Linked DNA regions of Homo sapiens: region 1 is linked to region 2. The links come from fine-mapping of genetic effects on gene expression. Tissue or cell type: whole blood. Region 2 holds a variant in brackets; the other region holds the start of a gene. All regions are shown on one strand. Distances are from middle to middle.

Region 1 (8,176 bases), 24 kb before region 2:
GCTGTGGCTGTTGAGCTTCTGGGGTGATACAAGCTGTGGGGCTAGGGCCACTCTGGATGCCCACTTGGGGGCCATGCTTGCTGATGCATAAGTACAGAAAAGAAGAATGGGGCACGTGCTCAGAGAGCGGCAGACCGGAGGTCATGGGGCCAGGGAGAGTGAGACACACACACGCATGCACACACACACACATGCATGCACACACACAGACACACACATGCACACACACACACACTGCCTGCCTTGGCCCCGGCCTTTTCAGCTCCAGCCCCCAGCTCCCCAAGGCCCATCTGAATGTCTTGCCCTGCACTAACCTGCCCCCCATCTTACTTGCCAGGCCCTTGCCCACCCCCTCCCTAACAAAAGGTAGGAGAGTTTGGCAAACCTTCACTTTCTCCCCAAATCCCTCCTGCCTTGTTCTTACCCAACTATGCCCTTCCCTGGGTCTCTGCCACAGGGTCAGCTGTGATTTTTGTTCCTTGTTTCTTGGGTTTGCTGCTGCAACTCACTAGCTTTCCTGGGCAGTGTCTTCCCCATCATACCCTAGCATGGTTTTCCTCATAATCCCAGATTTCAAAAAGGACGTTGCTCACAACCTCCCTGGCCCCTGGCCTGGTGCACAGAGGGCCAGCGGAAAGTGGACAAGGGAGGGAGGGAGGGAAGAGAGAAGGCCAGCAAGCAGGAAGCCCACCTTCCAGGGGTGAGCCACCCCAGCTAAGCACCTACTGCAGACTCTGCCCACCCATGTTTTCAGGGAGGGGACGGGGTAGTAGGCAGGAGGCAGGGCGGCAGTGGGCAGCTGGTCCTGAGCACAGGCTTCACCGTGCAGAGCTGGGAGGCATGCACATAGCTCTGGGGTCAGCCTCGTTTCAGGAGCTGCACAAGAGACTGAGCTCTGGGACGGTGTCTGAGGGGTGAGAGGAGCGAGTCACTCTGGAGATGGGGCGGCCCCCAGTTAGCTGGCTCTGTCCAAAGTCTCAGTGGCCCTCTGCTGACCTGGCTCACCCCACTGGCCTGATTCAGGCTCTGCTGAGGTGGGGCTGAGCTGGGATGCAGGTAGGTGGATGGGGCGGATCTTTGATCGGCTTAGTATCAGTTTGTCTTGCTTCCCCAGGGCCACAGCTTTTGAAAAAGAGCCAGGTCCAGGCCACAGAGATCCAGAGCCTCATCCCAGTACCTTAGCCTGCCCTAATCCGCAGGCCTCTGGCCTGATCCCCTGTGCCTTGAGCCCGGCCTTCACAGACACGCCTCGGGATGGGGCTGTTTAGACAAATGGTCTCTCCTGCGGTTCCCAGGGAACCGCAGACATGGCATGGGGGAAATTCAGCACCTGGCCTCTCCAACACCCTCCTCCCCTTCTCTGGGGGACTTTGCTCCCCCCAGATCTCACTGTGTAGTTCCACTGGGGGCTGTGCACCTCGGCATCCTGCCACTCTGGCTCAGGAGGTGGGGCATGACCTAGGCCACGCCCATCAGAATCCTTCTTGGGATTTTTCACTCATCTCTAAGGAAAGACAGCAGTTCCTCAGGAAAGAAGATGGCGTGCCGGTGGCCATGCCTCACAGGCTGCTGCCGAGAAGAACAAGGCCAAGACACGTTAATAACCAAAGAGAGCCGGGTGCAATGGCTTATGCCTGTAATCCCAGCACTTTGGGAGGCTGAGGTGGGAGGATCACTTGAGACCAGGAGTTCAAGATCCGCTCTGGCAACATAGTGAGACCCCGTCTCTACAAAAATGAAAAAATTAGCTGGGCATGGTGGCACCTGCCTGTAGCCCCAGCTACTTAGGAGGCTGAGTGAGGTAGGAGGATCGCTTGAGCCTGGGAGGTTGAGGCTGCAGTGAGCCGTGGTCACACCACAGCCTGAGTGACAGAGCAAGACCCTGTCTCAAAAAAAAAAAAAAAAAAAAAAAGAAGAGGAGAGACCTGAGACCTGGAGGGTCCAGATCCCATTTTCTGTCATCCTGGAGCCCAACCACATGCCCTGCCCTTTCTGTGTTTTGGTTCCAGAGCCAGGGCCCCAAGTTTAGCAGGGTCCTGGGCTTGGTTTAATGCTCTGTTGTTGCTGTCTTGACATTCTTATTCATTTTTGAAAAAGGGACCCTGAATTTTCATGTTGCACTGGACTCCACAAATTACACAATCTTACCGTTAGCCATTAACAGGTATTTTTGGTGTAAGATTCTAGTAGGGTAATCTAAAAGAGTACACAGGAGTGCAACTCAGACACACACACACACACACACACACACGAGACTAGAGGAGTTCCTCGTCCCCCATAAACCCAGATACTCAGCCCCTTCTCCCAGGCCCCAGGAGCCCCAAACTCATACCCAGTGCCTGGCTCAGCCCCTCTTCCCAGCCGTGACACTTACACAGCATCTTGGTCACTTGTCTCCGGCCCCGATCGTGCTGCTGGAGCCTGCAGGTGTATCTGGACCTGGCTGCTGCAGAGCCCCTGCCCTTGGCCTCCTGCATGAGCAGCAGCCTCTCCCGCCGCAGTCGCAGCCCAATGAGCAGGTAGAGCACGCTCATGATGGCCATGGGCAGGCAGAAGAAGAGCAGCGCGGTGGTCTGCACTACCATGTTGTAGAGGGCCCGTGGGCGGACCAGCATGCAAACAGCTGAGTCTGGCACTGGGCCCCGGCAGGGCACGTGCAGCTGCCGGATGCCGTGCAGGCTGGTGTTGGGCAGGGAGCAGAGCATGGCAAGACCCCAGACGGCCCCAAGCACTCGGCGCACATGGGCCCGCGTCACCATGGACCTGGCCTGGAGTGGGTGCACCACGGCCACATAGCGTTCCACGCTCAGGGCAGTGACGTTGAGCACTGAGGCCAGGCAGACCATCTCAAACAGTAGCGTGCGGAAATAGCAGCCACCAACGCCCAGCAGGAAGGGGTAGTTGTGCCACATCTCATAGAGCTCCAGGGGCAGGCCCACCAGCAGCACCAGCAGGTCCGACACGGCCAGGCTGAAGAGGTAGTAGTTGGTAGGCGTGCGCATGGCCTTGTGGCGCAGGATGACCAGACAGGTCAGCCCATTGCCCACAGCGCCCACCACGAAGATCAGCAGGTATGTGGCACAGATGGGCATGAACAGCTCTGTCTGCTGGGGCCCCAGGTACTTGAGTCTCAGTGCCTCGTCAGTCAGGTTCAAGTCCTCAGGGTCAAAGTGCCCCCTGGCCGCACTGCCATTGCAAGCCATGGGGTTCCTTGCACCCCCTGGGTACAGGTCTCCAGGGAGGACAGAGCAATTGAGGCAGAGAGGAGTCTGTGGAACAGAGGGGAGAGATGCCCAGAAAGATCATTCAGGGAATGCTGGCTCTGTCCTCACTCATCAAGCCAAAGGTGACATTAGCGCTATGATGACCATTATTTTAGGCACCACTGAGAAAGAAAAAACTCTTCCATCCACAAGTCAGAGATGTAAAAATAAGCTTGGTGCAGTGGCTCACACCTGTAATCCCAACACTTTGGTCGAGGCAGGCGGATCACTTGAGATCAGGAGTTCAAGACCAGCCTGGCCAATATGGTGAAACCCCGTCTCTACTAACAATACAAAAAGTAGCCGGGCGTGGTAGCACACGCCTGTAATTCCAGCTACTTGGGAGGCTGAGGCGGGAGAATTGTTTGAACCCAGGAGACAGAGGTTGCAGTGAGCGGAGATTGTGCCACCGGACTCCAGCCTGGGCAACAGAGAAAGACCTTGTCTCAAAAAAACAAAAAGCAAACAACGAAAAAGTAAAAATCTACATTTAAAAAAAAAAAAACACGTGGGGTTTTGATTTTAAATTTCATGATCTATTGGAACCTTTGAGTAAATGACAGATCTTGGGTGTCTCCTCTTTCAAGCAATGATGCTAGATGAGGCACTCGTTTGGGCATCTGTAAAATGGGCACAATGCCTGGTATTGCAGGGTCTTCAAGAGCAAGCGCTCAGGAAGCAACTGCCTGGATTCGAATCCAGCCTCCCCAGTTCCAGGCTGTGTGACCTTTAGCGAGGTAACCTCTCTGAGGCTGTTTCCCTATTAGGAGGATCCAGGGAGTTTAATCCATTAAAGACATTAACACAGGGCCTGCCTGGCATACGGAAGGGCACGGGGATCACCCCCTTGCTCTGGGGACCCAGTCACTATGAGAGTCAAGTGAGGGAGTGTCAAGGCTACACACTACAAATGCTTCATCCACAAGTTGATTCTTTTTTCTGTTTTCTGTCACCTGAACTGTTCAGTCTCCATATTTGACGCCCTTGGCACTGCCAGTTCTGGGGTTCCCTCTCCTCTATTGAGCCCCACACCCTTCCTCCCGCCCGCCCTCACCCCCGCTGCACAGCAGCGCGGGAGCCTCGGGAACCAGTTGGGAACGCGCAGGCGCCAGCCCGGGTTCAAGGGAGGCGCCCTGGTCCTCGAGGAAGGGTCGCAAGCCCGCAGCCCCCCGGCGCCCCTGGCCGGAAGACACAAATGACCCGAGAAGTTGCGAGGCTCCCCGGTGGCGGGGACGGGGGGCACCCCGACGGAGCCCTCGGACCCTTCCCGCCCTAGGACGACCCTGCCCGCACCGAGCCCCGGCCCAGCTGCCGCGCCCTAGCCCACGCCGGCGCCTGCGCACCTACCATGCGGCCCGCGGCCCGCGAGACCCCGGCTTCCACCCTCCGAGCGACGGACACAGACGCGGCGCGGGAGCCAGTGGACTGACTGACAGCGGCCCCAGCCCGCGCCCCGACGCCCCGCCTGTCCGGCCGGGAACGCCGCCAGGGGGCAGTGCAGTCCCCGCAGCCCGGGCGGCGCCCCCTCCCGCACTGGCGGAGGACGCGGCCGTTGGAGGCGACACCTCCACAAGCAGCGTGGAGGCGACACCTCCACAAGCAGCGTTATCTGACGGAACCCTCACAACAACCCGTTTTACAGATGAGAAAACTGAGCCTCAGAGAGCCGCAGAGGAGGAGCCCGAGAGACCTGGGGCTCACATGTGATTCCCGCCCTCCAGCGTGCTGAGTTTAGCTTAACGCCGTCACGGTGTCCCTGCGGCCTCCAGCTCCTCCTGCCCCCCATTCAGACCCACCTCCAAGGACAGGGACGGCCCACCAGCCCCTTGAAGTCGACATGCCCCGGTGCGGTTCATCCTCCCAGGCTCCAGGCCTCTTCTTCTGTCCCAAGGCCCATGATTGCAGCCTCCGCAGCCCCTCTCACCCGCTGCTCCCTTCGGGGCCTCCAGTCCCTGAGTCCAGGCGCTCGGCCCTGCAGGACTGGGCAAGAGCCCCCTATTCTCCCTCCAGTCCATCCTCCCACAGCCACCAACGACCATCACCCCCTCGAAACCCTTCCTTGGGGCCCCCCCACTGCCTTCTGAAAAAGAGCACACCAAAGTCTAGCCTGGGGGTGGACCTCCCCACTCCTCACCTGCCTCCCTGGGCCACCCTCTCCTCACCATTGTCCTCAGCCCCAAATACTGTCCCCCTTATCCGTTCAAATGTTCTTCTGCCCCCATCACTGTACCAAGGGTGGGGGTATAGACAAGGATGGAGGGAATTTAGGGAAGGGTTAAGAATGCCCAGCCACAGCCTCCTGCTCCCCCACACTGCCCACATGCAAATCCCAGTGCCTCACCTGCTCCCACTCCCTAGTCCTGCAATCAGCTCCTTAGCTGGAAGCTGTTTCATCAGAAACTTCTAGGGACCCTAGAAATGACGGATCACACAGAGTAAAATGCTGGTTCCGGGGCCTTTGCCCAGAGTTTTGTCTCCTTAGCCTGGGCAAGGCCCAGAAATCCTCATGTTTGACAAACGCCCTCTGGAGAGCCCCATGCCCCAGAATCACACTGAGGAGCACCAGGAGAGGTTACAAAGCCACAGGACCCCGAGAGGCCACCGTGAGCTCAGAAGCTCTGTGTGCCTCAGTTCCCCTTCCTGTAGAATGGGCTAACCACCATCGCCACTATTGTGAAGGTGACATGAGACACTGAGCGTCAAGATTCAGCACAGGGGCTGGCACATGGCCAACACTCAAGAAATGTGGGGTGGGATTGTCACCATTTAGTGGCAACTGGAGGCTCCTCCTTCCCCCCGCTTTCCTGCACCCTCCTCCTCCCCACTGCCCCCCAATTCCATAAGTCACTGTCTGGGCTTGGGGATGGGAGTTAGGCCCTCAAGGAGCCTGCACCAGGCCGGCCTTCCCAGGAACTCCACATGTAAACAGAGTCCCAGGCAGGGGACGGTTGTGGGAAGTGCAGGGGCACGTGGTCCTCAGGGCCTTGGGAGAAAGGATTCTGTGGTGCCCTGGGAATTAACTACTCAGCCCCTGATGAGCTAGTCCAGGAGAAATCCTCAGTAACAGGGCTGCCAGCACAACAGACGGGCAAGGAGGGATGACATCACTCAGCATCAGAGACCACTGTGGCATCACAGGCTGCTCTTAGCAAGTGAGGAGCATTTGGACCCCAGCCCTTCACTGGAACACACACACACACGCACATGCATGTACACACACATACACACACATGCATGCACACATCACTCTGCACATACCACACCACACACACGCGCACACACATACCACTCTGCACAGACTCTGAGCAGTCCGAAAGTCCCCGTGGACCCTTTGGTTCACACAGCCCTGGAGGGGATGGGGAAGGACCCACCTAGCCTTGCAGAGGCAGAATGACTCTTGCCAGTCAGGAATTCCTACAGCGGGTTGCATCATTCACATAACATTAGCAGCCATCAAAGGCTAAAGAGCAGCCCCCAAAAAGGAGAGGCTCAGTGGCCACAATGGCTGTGGCCCTCACTTCCGCACTGTGCAGAGGGCCCTAGGGGCCCTGGCCTCCGGGCCTGAGCTCAAGGCCACCACGGTAGTGTCCCATCAGAAACGTATGACATCCTGCTGCTCCTGCTCCGTCCTGAGGTGGCACCCCCCAGTTTTCTGGGTGTACACATCCATCTAAGCTTGGCTGGTGGGCGTCTGCCCAGATGAGGGGGCCAAGGACCCAACTCTGCACAACAGCAAATGCATTCAGGGAGGGCCACTGGGACCTCCAGGAGCTGCTGAGATACCACCCAAGTCCCAGGCGTGTGCAGGACTCATGGGGCCAGAGGCATGTGAGTAGCTCCGTATCCCCTCCTCATCCTGCTGAGTCCCTGAGAGCCAAGAGGGGCTGCTTAAACTCAGGCCAGGCTTAAACCAGAACCTTCTCAGCCTTGGGCTGACCCGCAGCTCCTGGCAAGCCCATGGTTCCCCCAGAAACGCCCCAACCCCACCCCACTTACTGCCTACAGAGGGGAGGCAGGGAGGATGAGATGAGCTTGGGGACACTGTAGCTCTGGACAGGAGGGAGGCACTGTTCTGCAGCCTGGGCAATGGGGATCACCCAGGACCCCCATCACTAGGCTTCATTGGGCAAACATGGAGAACAAGAACAGTAAATATCCGAAGCAAGGGAGAGTCGCTGTACCCATCTGGGCACCTCCCAAGGTCAGAGAGCTCCCTACCCAGCTCTGCTCTGTGGGGTCCCAGCCTGGCCATGGCCAGGAGCTAGAGGAGGATGGTCTGGGCCCCTCAGGTGATGGGGTTCCGAACTTGGGGGCTGGGATTGCACCTCAGGGAGCCACGTGGCTTTTGTGTGATCATGCACCCATGCTCCCTGAGCCACCAGCCCTGGTCTGCTCACAGAAACTGGTGGGAGAGATGGTCAAGCCAGGCAGGGAACATGGTGAGTACAGGCTTTGGAGGCTGTGAGGCCAGAGTGAGACTCCGCATTCTGCCAGCGTGGCCTCAGATAAGCCACTTTGCGCTTCAGGCCTCAGCTTCTTTGCCTGTAAAACACAAACATAGCCCCTGTCCTTCAGGGATGCCATGAGGATTAAGAGTGATAATGTGGGTTTAAGCACTCAGTGCAGGGTTGAAGAGCCTGGAATTCTCTGGAAGATACCAGAAAGCTGCTGGGAGGCAGGGCTGGGGTGGGAGCTGTCCTTAGTAGGGTTTGGAAGGGCAAGGTCCCCAGCACCCCGGGAAGGAGAGCTGAGTCCCAGTGGAAAGGAGCACACAGGCTTGCAGGGAGCCCAGCCACAGTGCAGGCAGTCGGGGCCCTGCAGCCCGGTGGGGACCAGCAGCGGAGGAGACCTCCGGGGAGCATCGCCCCTGCCTCTCCTGCTCCTAGAGGGGACCACTGGGGACTGTCTAGCCC
Region 2 (8,176 bases):
TTCAGAGGTTGTAGAGTGGGACTTATGAGGAAACGGTTTAAGAGAGACATACACAGTTGCTTGGAGGATTGCTTGAACCTAGGAGTTCTGGGCTGTAGTAAGCTAGATCATGCTTGTGAATAGCCGCTGCACTCCAGCCTGGGCAACAGAAGGAGACTATGTCTCTAAAAAAAAAAAAAAAGAGAGAGAGAGAGAGGGAGGCTGGGCACAGTGGCTCATGCCTATAATCCTAGCACTTTGGGAGGCCAAGGCAGGTGGATCACCTGAGGTCAGGAGTTCAAGACTAGCCTGGCCAACATGGTAAAATCTTGCCTGTACTAAAAATACAAAAATTTGCCAAGCATGGTGGCGGGCACCTGTAATCCCAGCTACTCGGGAGGCTGAGGCAGGAGAATCGCTTGAACCTGGGAGGCGGAGGGTGCAGTGAGCCAAGATCGTGCCTTTGCACTCCAGCCTGGGCAACAAGAGCAAAACTCCATCTCAAAAGAAAAAAAAAGGCCAGGCGCGGTGGCTCACACCTGTAATTCCAGCACTTTGGGAGGCCGAGGCAGGCAGATCACCTGAGGCCAGGAGTTCGAGACCAGCCTGACCAACATGGAGAAATCCTGTCTCTACTAAAAATACAAAATTAGCCAGGCGTGGTGGTGCATGCCTGTAATCCCAGCTACTCGGGAGGCTAAGGCAGGAGAATCACTTGAACCTGGGAGGCAGAGGTTGCAGTGAGCGGGGAGATCGTGCCATTGCACTCCAGCCTGAGCAACAAGAGTGAAACTCCGTCTCAAAAAAAAAAAAAAAAAAAAAAAAAGAGGCTAGCCGGGCACAGTGGCTCACATCTGTAATCCCAGCACTTTGGAAGGGTGCGGCAGGCAAATCACTTGAGCTCAGGCCAGCCTGGGCAACATGATGAGACCCCGTTGCTACAAAAAAATAAAAAATAAAGAGAGGGTTGGGGACAGACAGCTGATGAAAGCTATTTTTATACCTTCTCCTTAGCCTCCATCTCCTAATTCCTTTCTAGAATACAGATGTGATGGCTGGAGGTCCAGCAGCTATCATGGACCCTGAAGTGATCTGGAGGCTAGACATCACACCCTAAGAATGGCAGAGCTGAAAGGCAGAGGAAACATGAGTCTCTGGTGATACTATGAAGCTTCTAGTCCAGCCCTGAACACAATAAAAGTTTTTCTTTCTCAGGGTCTCTACAGGGAGACAAGAGGGGTATTCTTCTTATCTATGTCACCGATGGGCTGATGCTGATGGAGTAACCACCATGTTGAACATCACTCTATTAGAGCCCTGGAGGGTACTGGTAACTAAATATTTAGCCTGGATGTCAAATCACTTCTACTCATTGGCCAGAACTAGCCCCATGGCTCCGTCTAATCAATGGTAAGACAGCCAGGAAATGTCATCCTGCCAAGTACCCAGAAGGCAGGGAGCAGAAGGAGGTCCAGTGATCATCATTAAGAAATCAAGTTGGGGCTGGGCGTGGTGGCTCACGCTTGTAATCCCACCACTGTGAGAGGCCAAGGCGGGTGTATCACCTGAGGTCGGGAGTTCAAGACCAGCCTGAACAACATGGAGAAACCCCGTGTCTACTAAAAATACAAAATTAGCTGGGCATGATGGTGCATGCCTGTAATCCCAGCTACTCAGGAGGCTGAGGCAGGAGAATTGCTTGAACCCGGGAGCTAGAGGTTGCGGTGAGCTGAGATCGCACCATTGCACGCCAGCCTAGGCAACAAGAGCAAAACTCCATCTAAAAAAAAAAAAAGAAAGAAAAGAAAGAAATCAAGTTGTCCAGGAGCAGTGGCTCACGCCTATAATCCCAGCACTTTGGGAGGCCAAGGCAGGTGGATCACCTGAGGTCAGGAGTTCAAGACCAGCCTGGCTGACATGGTGAAACGGCATCTCCACTAAAAATACAAAATTACCCGGGTGTGGTGGCTCATGCCCGTGATCCCAGATACTGGGGAGGCTGACGCAGGAGAATCACTTGAACCTGGAAGATGGAGATTGCAGTGAGCCAAGATCACACCATTGCTCCCCAGCCTGGGCAACAAGAGTGAAATTCCATCTCAAAAAAAAAAAAAAAAAAAAAGAAAAAAGAAATCAAGTTGAGTTCAATATTTATTCCTCTTCATACAGAAGGAACCGATATTTAAACATATTAAAATCTCCATATTTTTCTCAAATAATATAATGAACTTAGAATATTTTAATGCCAATCTCCTCTCATCTTTGTGGTATTATCTTCTTTTTTTATTTTAAAAAACTTTTTTAAAGACAGGGTTTTGCTCTCTGTCACCCAGGCTAGAGTGCAGTGGCATGATCATAGCTCACTGCAGCCTCAAGCTCCTGGGTTCCCACCTCAGCCTCCGAGTGGCTAGGACTACAGGCAAGTACTACCATGCCTGGCTAATTAAAAAAAAAAAAAAAAATTGTAGAGACAGGTTCTCACTATGTTGCCTAGGCTGATCTCAAACTCCTGGCCTCAAGCAATCTTCCTGCCTCAGACTCCCAAAGCCCTGGGATTACAGGTGTGAGCTACTATGCCCAGCCCTGAAGTATTATTTTCTAGAAAACAAGTTAATATATGTAAAGTGCTTAAAACAATGCCTGGCATGTAGCAAGCACTATATGGGTCTTCTATTATAAGTGGTTGCATTAAAGTGAAATTGGTCTTTTTCTTTTCTTGTTTTAATTATGTAACACTTATTTACATTATTTAGCACAGGTTTGGCCATTTCTAGCTCCTCAAGTATGAACTCTCTCATTCTGTTATTCTCTTCCTCTGGAACTCTTGTTTAATGGCTGCTGCATCATTTCATTCTCTCCTCCCAACTCCATTTCTTTACCTCATTGTGATGCATTCTGGAAAATTTCTTCAGCTTTGTTTTCTAATTCACTAATTCTTTCTTTGGCTGTGTCTAAAATACCATTTCACTCATCCAATGATGTTTTTTCCTGTTCTGTAGTTGTATTTTTATAGCTATAACTTTTGTTTAATTATTTTTCAAATCTGCCTATCCTGTTTTCATTTTATTCAGTCCTTACATTATGGTTTATAGCTCTTTTTTTTTTCCTGTGAACACTTTAAACACTTTGCATTAGAGTACATTTTAGATTTTTCTATTAATTATATTCCTTGGGAGGCTATTCTTCCTATTTCCTTCTGACTGTTGCTTTTCTAATTTTTGACCCCTTGTGAGCTCAACTCAGTGGGGGATGCTTTCCATGGGAGTCTCTCATTCCTAAATTGTAGAAACAATCCTACAGAGAGGCTTTGCATTTGCCTCTCTCAAGCTGCCGAGATGTGCCAGTTATGCTAATTTCTTGGTCCCCTTTGTAATTTCAAAACCCCTGCCCAAAGCATTGAAGGCCAACATCTGGCTCCAAAACTCCATGAGCCATTTCAACTTCTCCTCCCACTAACTCTCTCATTTTATGTTCCCTTTGTATTCCCAGCACCCAGAGATTTTCTGCTCTTATTTAAAGCTGGTTGAGGGTTCAAAGCATTATTGAACTATATTTTCTTCAGTGTCTCCATGTGTAGTCATTTCTTATATACTTTCTTATTTTCTCATTTGTTTATAGCACACAGTTTAGCAAATAACTGTACACTATCTTGTCCATTACTTAAGTGTGTATATTTTCTCTCCCTGACAATATGTAGATGCTCCTCGTTATGGGCAGAATTGTCATCCCAAAATTCATAAGCTGAAGTCCTAACCCTCAATTAGTATGACTGTATTTGGACATAGGATCTTTGAAGAAGTAGAGTTAAATGAGGTCATGGGAGCGGGCTCTATCCAATATGACTGGAGTCCTTATAAGAAGACAAGATCAGGACTAGGCATGGTGGCTCATGCCTATAGTCCCAGCACTTTGGGAGGCCAAGGTGCACGGATCACCTGAGGTCAGGAGTTTGAGACCAGCCTGGTCAACATGGCACAACCCCATCTCTACTAAAAATACAAAAATTAGCTGGGTGTGGTGGCGTGCACTTGTAGTCCCAGCTACTCAAGAGGCTGAGGCAGAAGAATTGCTTGAGACTGGGAGGCAGAGGTTGCAGTGAGCAGAGATCGCATCATTGCACTCCAGCCTGGGTGACAAGAGCAAGACTCCATCTCAAAAAAAAAAAAAAAACAAAACCAAGATCAGGACACAGACACTCATAGAGGGAAGTCCACGTGAAGAAGCAGAGAAGGTGGCCATCTACAAGCCAGAGAGAGGCTTCCAAAGAAGCCAGTCCGGCTGACACCTTGATCTTGGACTTCAAGCCTCCAGAACCGTGAAAAAATTCATTGCTATGTTTTGAGCCCCCCAGTCTGTGGCAGTTTGTTGCAGCAGCCTCACCAGACTCACACATTTCCTTCCTTCGTCTGTGTACTCAGCCAGCACATACTCAGCCCTCATACTGAGCCAACACACCCATGCCCAGCACCAACTGCACACAGGGCTCACTGGAGACACACTGACATCTCGATTCCTTTTCCCACCCACTGCCCGCGTGGGGCTGTGGGCCAGGCTGGTCCCTGTCCACTATTTGTAAGCCTTCCCAGCCCTTTCTCCCGCTCCTCTGCCTCCATCCCCTAAATAAAGCAGTCTTCATGCGAGGCCTGGCCCTCTGCCCTCCCTCTGCAGGCTCCCTTCTCACTCCGCAGGGTGGTCCTTACCAAGGCTGCCCCTGCCCTCCCTCCAGGCCCAGCATCCAGGCTCAGCTCTTCCCCTGGCCCTGCTTCTTCCCACCACTGTCCTTTCCATGGTCCTCTGGACACGCCCACAGGCGAGGCCGCAGCTTTCACTTTCCCCATGAAGAGGACAGCTTCTTCACGTCTCCAGTTTGGACCTCCTGG[A/C]CTCTCTGGCTCGGCTTTGACGTCTTCCTCTCCTCACCATCCACAGACAGTAAGTCCTGTTGATTCAGCCTCCCAGCTGTCTCCGCCTCTGCCCTCCCACGCCACCCCAGGCCACCCACTCTGCAGGGCCTCTTCCTCCCTGAAGGTCCTTCTGGCTTTTGTTTTCTTAAAGCTGAAGGTCTCAGGAGAACTTGGAGGGTTTACTGAGCAAGTAGAAGGAAAGAAGGGCAGAGTGTCTGACTGGAAGCAGGGGACAAGGTCCTCTGGTCCTCTCCCCCCAGTTAGAGGACAGGAGGGAAAGATGGGCAGGGGGGAGGTAAGGAGCAGCGAGAGTAGGAGGGCAGGGGGCCTGTTTCCTGGGTCCTGCTCCTGGACATGAGGCGAGACGAAGAGAGGGATGCTGTTGCCCTGAGACATCCAGGAAGAGGACCCAGGGCCACGTCAAAGAAGTCCTGAGGCCCAAGGGCAGCCCCAAGCTGTGGGGAGCAGCTGACCTTCAAGAATCTGGCAGAAAGACAAAGAGAGGCTGGGCACAGTGGCTCATGCCTCCAATCCCAACACTCTGGGAGGATGAGGTAGGCCGCTCACTTGAGGTCAGGAGTTCAAGACTAGCCTGGGCAACACAGCAAAACCTACAGAAAGTACAAAAATTAGCTGAGCATGGTGTTGTGCACCTGTAGTCCCAGCTACTTGGGAGGGTAAGGTGGGAGAATTGCTTGAGTCTGGGAGGTCAAGGCTTCTGTGAGCAGAGATCTGCCACTGTACTCCAGCCTGCCAGCCTGGGTAACAGAGTGAGATACTGTCTCAAAATAAATAAATAAATAAATAAAAGGCTGGGTGTCGTGGCTCACGCCTATAATCCCAATACTTTGGGAGGCCGAGGCAGGTGGATCATGAGGTCAGGAGTTTGAGACCAGCCTGGCCAACATGGTGAAACCCTGTCTCTACTGAAAATACAAAAATTAGCCAGGTATGGTGGTGGGCGCCTGTAATCCCAGCTACTCGGGAGGCTGAGACAGGAGAATTGCTTGAACCCGGGAGGCAGAGGTTGCAGTGAGCTGAGATTGCACCACTGCACTCTAGACTGGGCAACAAAGAGCAAAACTCTGTCTCAAAAAATAATAATAATACAAAAATTAGCCAGGCGTGGTGACACACGCCTGTAATCCCAGCTACTCAGGAGGCTGAGGCAGGAGAATCACTTGAACCCTGGAGGCAGAGGTTGCAGTGAGCCAAGATCATGCCATTGCGCTCCAGCCCGGGCACCAAGAGTGAAACTCTGTCTCAAAAACAAAAAACAAAAAACAAAAAACAAAAAAAAAAACAGCCAAAGAGAATCTTGCAGCCATGGTGTGGGTTACTGACTGGGGACCTGCTGCCCACCCACCCTGGCCTCAGCACGGGAATGACCTGGAAGGAGAGAGCCCTCAAGGGCTGAGATTAAACCCACCAAGAGTGGAAATTGGGGGCCAAAAGTAAGCCCTCTAAAGCTCAGCAATGAACTTAATTTGGAAATTTCTAACATTCATAGGCTTGGTATTTATTCCACTTGTTTCCTAGATGGAAAATATAAATACCCAGCTTAGCTGGAGGTAGAGATGAGAGACACACCAGGGGCACTGCTTGGTCAGGCCAGGGGGTCATGGAAGGTCAAGGGTCCAGAGGTCTGGCTCAAAAGTGATGTTGTTTTTTGTTTTTGTTTTTGTTTTTTTGAGACCGAGTCTCGCTCTGTCTTCCAGGCTGGAGTGCAGCGGTGCGATCTCGGGTCACTGCAATCTCTGCCTCCTGGGTTCAAGCAATTCTCCTCCCTCAGCCTCCCGAGTAGCTGGGATTACAGGCACGTGCCACCATGCCCAGCTAATTTTTCATATTTTAGTAGAGACAGGGTTTCACCATTTTGGCCAGGCTGGTCTCAAACTCCTGACCTCAAGTGATCCGCCCACCTCGGCCTCCCAAAGTGCTGGGATTACAGGTGTGCGCCACTGCAACCGGCTGAAAGTGATGTTTTAAATGAATGCCCATGAGAGAACCAAATGAAATGGGTACAGTTACCAAATGAAGTGACTCGATCTGAAACAGCTGATATCTAGACCGGATGAATTCGACCATCAGCCCAGGCTCTGGTGTCCTGGTTTTGCTCCTCCTCGGCAAGCCCCTGAAGGGCCCGGCTCCAAACCCAGTTGCTGGGTGGATTCCCCAGGCCCTGGGCCTGTGTCTTAACGGGTCTTAGACCACCCAGCAGGCCAGGTCCTTCATGGTCTCCCGGGAACACAGACCCAAGAGGGCCCAGCCAACTTCAAAGTCCAGAGCAAGTGTCCCAGGGCAGAGGGGCCACCAGGCTTCAGGCAGGGAGGAGAGTGGGCACCTCTCCTGCTGTTTCCAAGACACTCCATTGAGGCACACACAGTCTGTTCAGAAAAACCCCTCAGGAGGACAGTCCCGAGGGTTTCCCACCTGACCGTGGGTGCTCCTTCCTCTCCTGGCCTGGGACCCCTTTCCTAACTCTCTCACCCTAGGCTTTCCCCGTTCTAGTCCAGAAGCGCCCATGACTTGAGACCTTCCCCTCGGAATCACATTCCACCTCCGCCCGACGCCGGATTCTCCAATACACAGACCCCAACTGCGGACCAGGAACCCCCACTCACTGTGAGGGAGGGGCTCTGGCCCTCACACAAGCACCCTGAGGCCATGCTGCAGACAGGCGCTGGGGCAGTTGGAGTAGTCCCTGAAGCTGGGAGGGGCAGGGCAGCATCTCCAGTGGCTCTCATCTGCGTCCAGCAGGCAGATGGGGCTGTCACTGAAGTCAGGGAAAGGGGGAAACGGAAGGGGCTCAGGGTGCCTTCCTGGGCAGGAAGGAAAGCCGGCTGTCAAGGAGAGCCCAGTGGTCAATCGTTGGTGTCTCCCAGAGTCTCCTCACTGCTGATTGCAACTCAGACAGCTGGGCCCAGCCCGAGTTCCCAAGTCAGCCAGGCAGCGGCAGGCCCAAGAACACGCATGCCTAGGAAGTCTCCAGCGACACTCTACTGCTAGGTTAGGACCATGCCTTGAGAACTGCTGAGGCTCAAGTTTTGCTCTCTGCATCTGGAGTCAGCGTCCTGGGTTCCTGTCCCAAGTCTGCCCCCTGATGGTAAGAAGTTGCTTCTTCAGCCAAATTTCATAATTTACCTCCTGGGGTAGGTGTAAAGATTAAGTGATATACTTGGGAAAATTAGCACAATTCCTGGCACACAGTAAGACTGAAAAAAATTCCTTATCAACTGGTTGAGGTGTGGTAATTTGGGTGGAGGAAGCTGCTGGGTTTTTTGTTTGTTTTTGTT

Evidence for each region. PIP is the estimated chance that this variant, and not a neighbour inherited with it, causes the effect.
Region 1: NMUR1 starts here. The variant in region 2 is fine-mapped to the expression of NMUR1 in whole blood (TOPMed, PIP above 0.99). The same link has a PIP of 0.9 or more in adrenal gland.

What each region holds. Positions count from the first base shown.
Region 1 is chr2:231,525,749-231,533,924 of GRCh38, forward strand. NMUR1 (neuromedin U receptor 1) reads right to left here and starts at 4,697. Exons shown (of 3, transcript NM_006056.5): 1 at 4,611-4,697; 2 at 2,375-3,269. The coding sequence starts at 4,613. It overlaps LOC105376787 (a long non-coding RNA gene), which reads left to right and starts at 6,422. Exons shown (of 4, transcript XR_001739928.2): 1 at 6,422-7,091. RefSeq lists enhancers at 498-999, 2,105-2,632, 2,633-3,159, 5,649-6,383 and a silencer at 4,525-4,954.
Region 2 is chr2:231,550,096-231,558,271 of GRCh38, forward strand. It overlaps LOC105376787 (a long non-coding RNA gene), which reads left to right. Exons shown (of 4, transcript XR_001739928.2): 4 at 1,019-1,530. Among named protein-coding and RNA genes, the nearest start is that of NMUR1, 24 kb to the left of the region's middle. RefSeq lists an enhancer at 5,505-5,564. The variant A/C (reference allele first, on the strand shown) is at 4,860.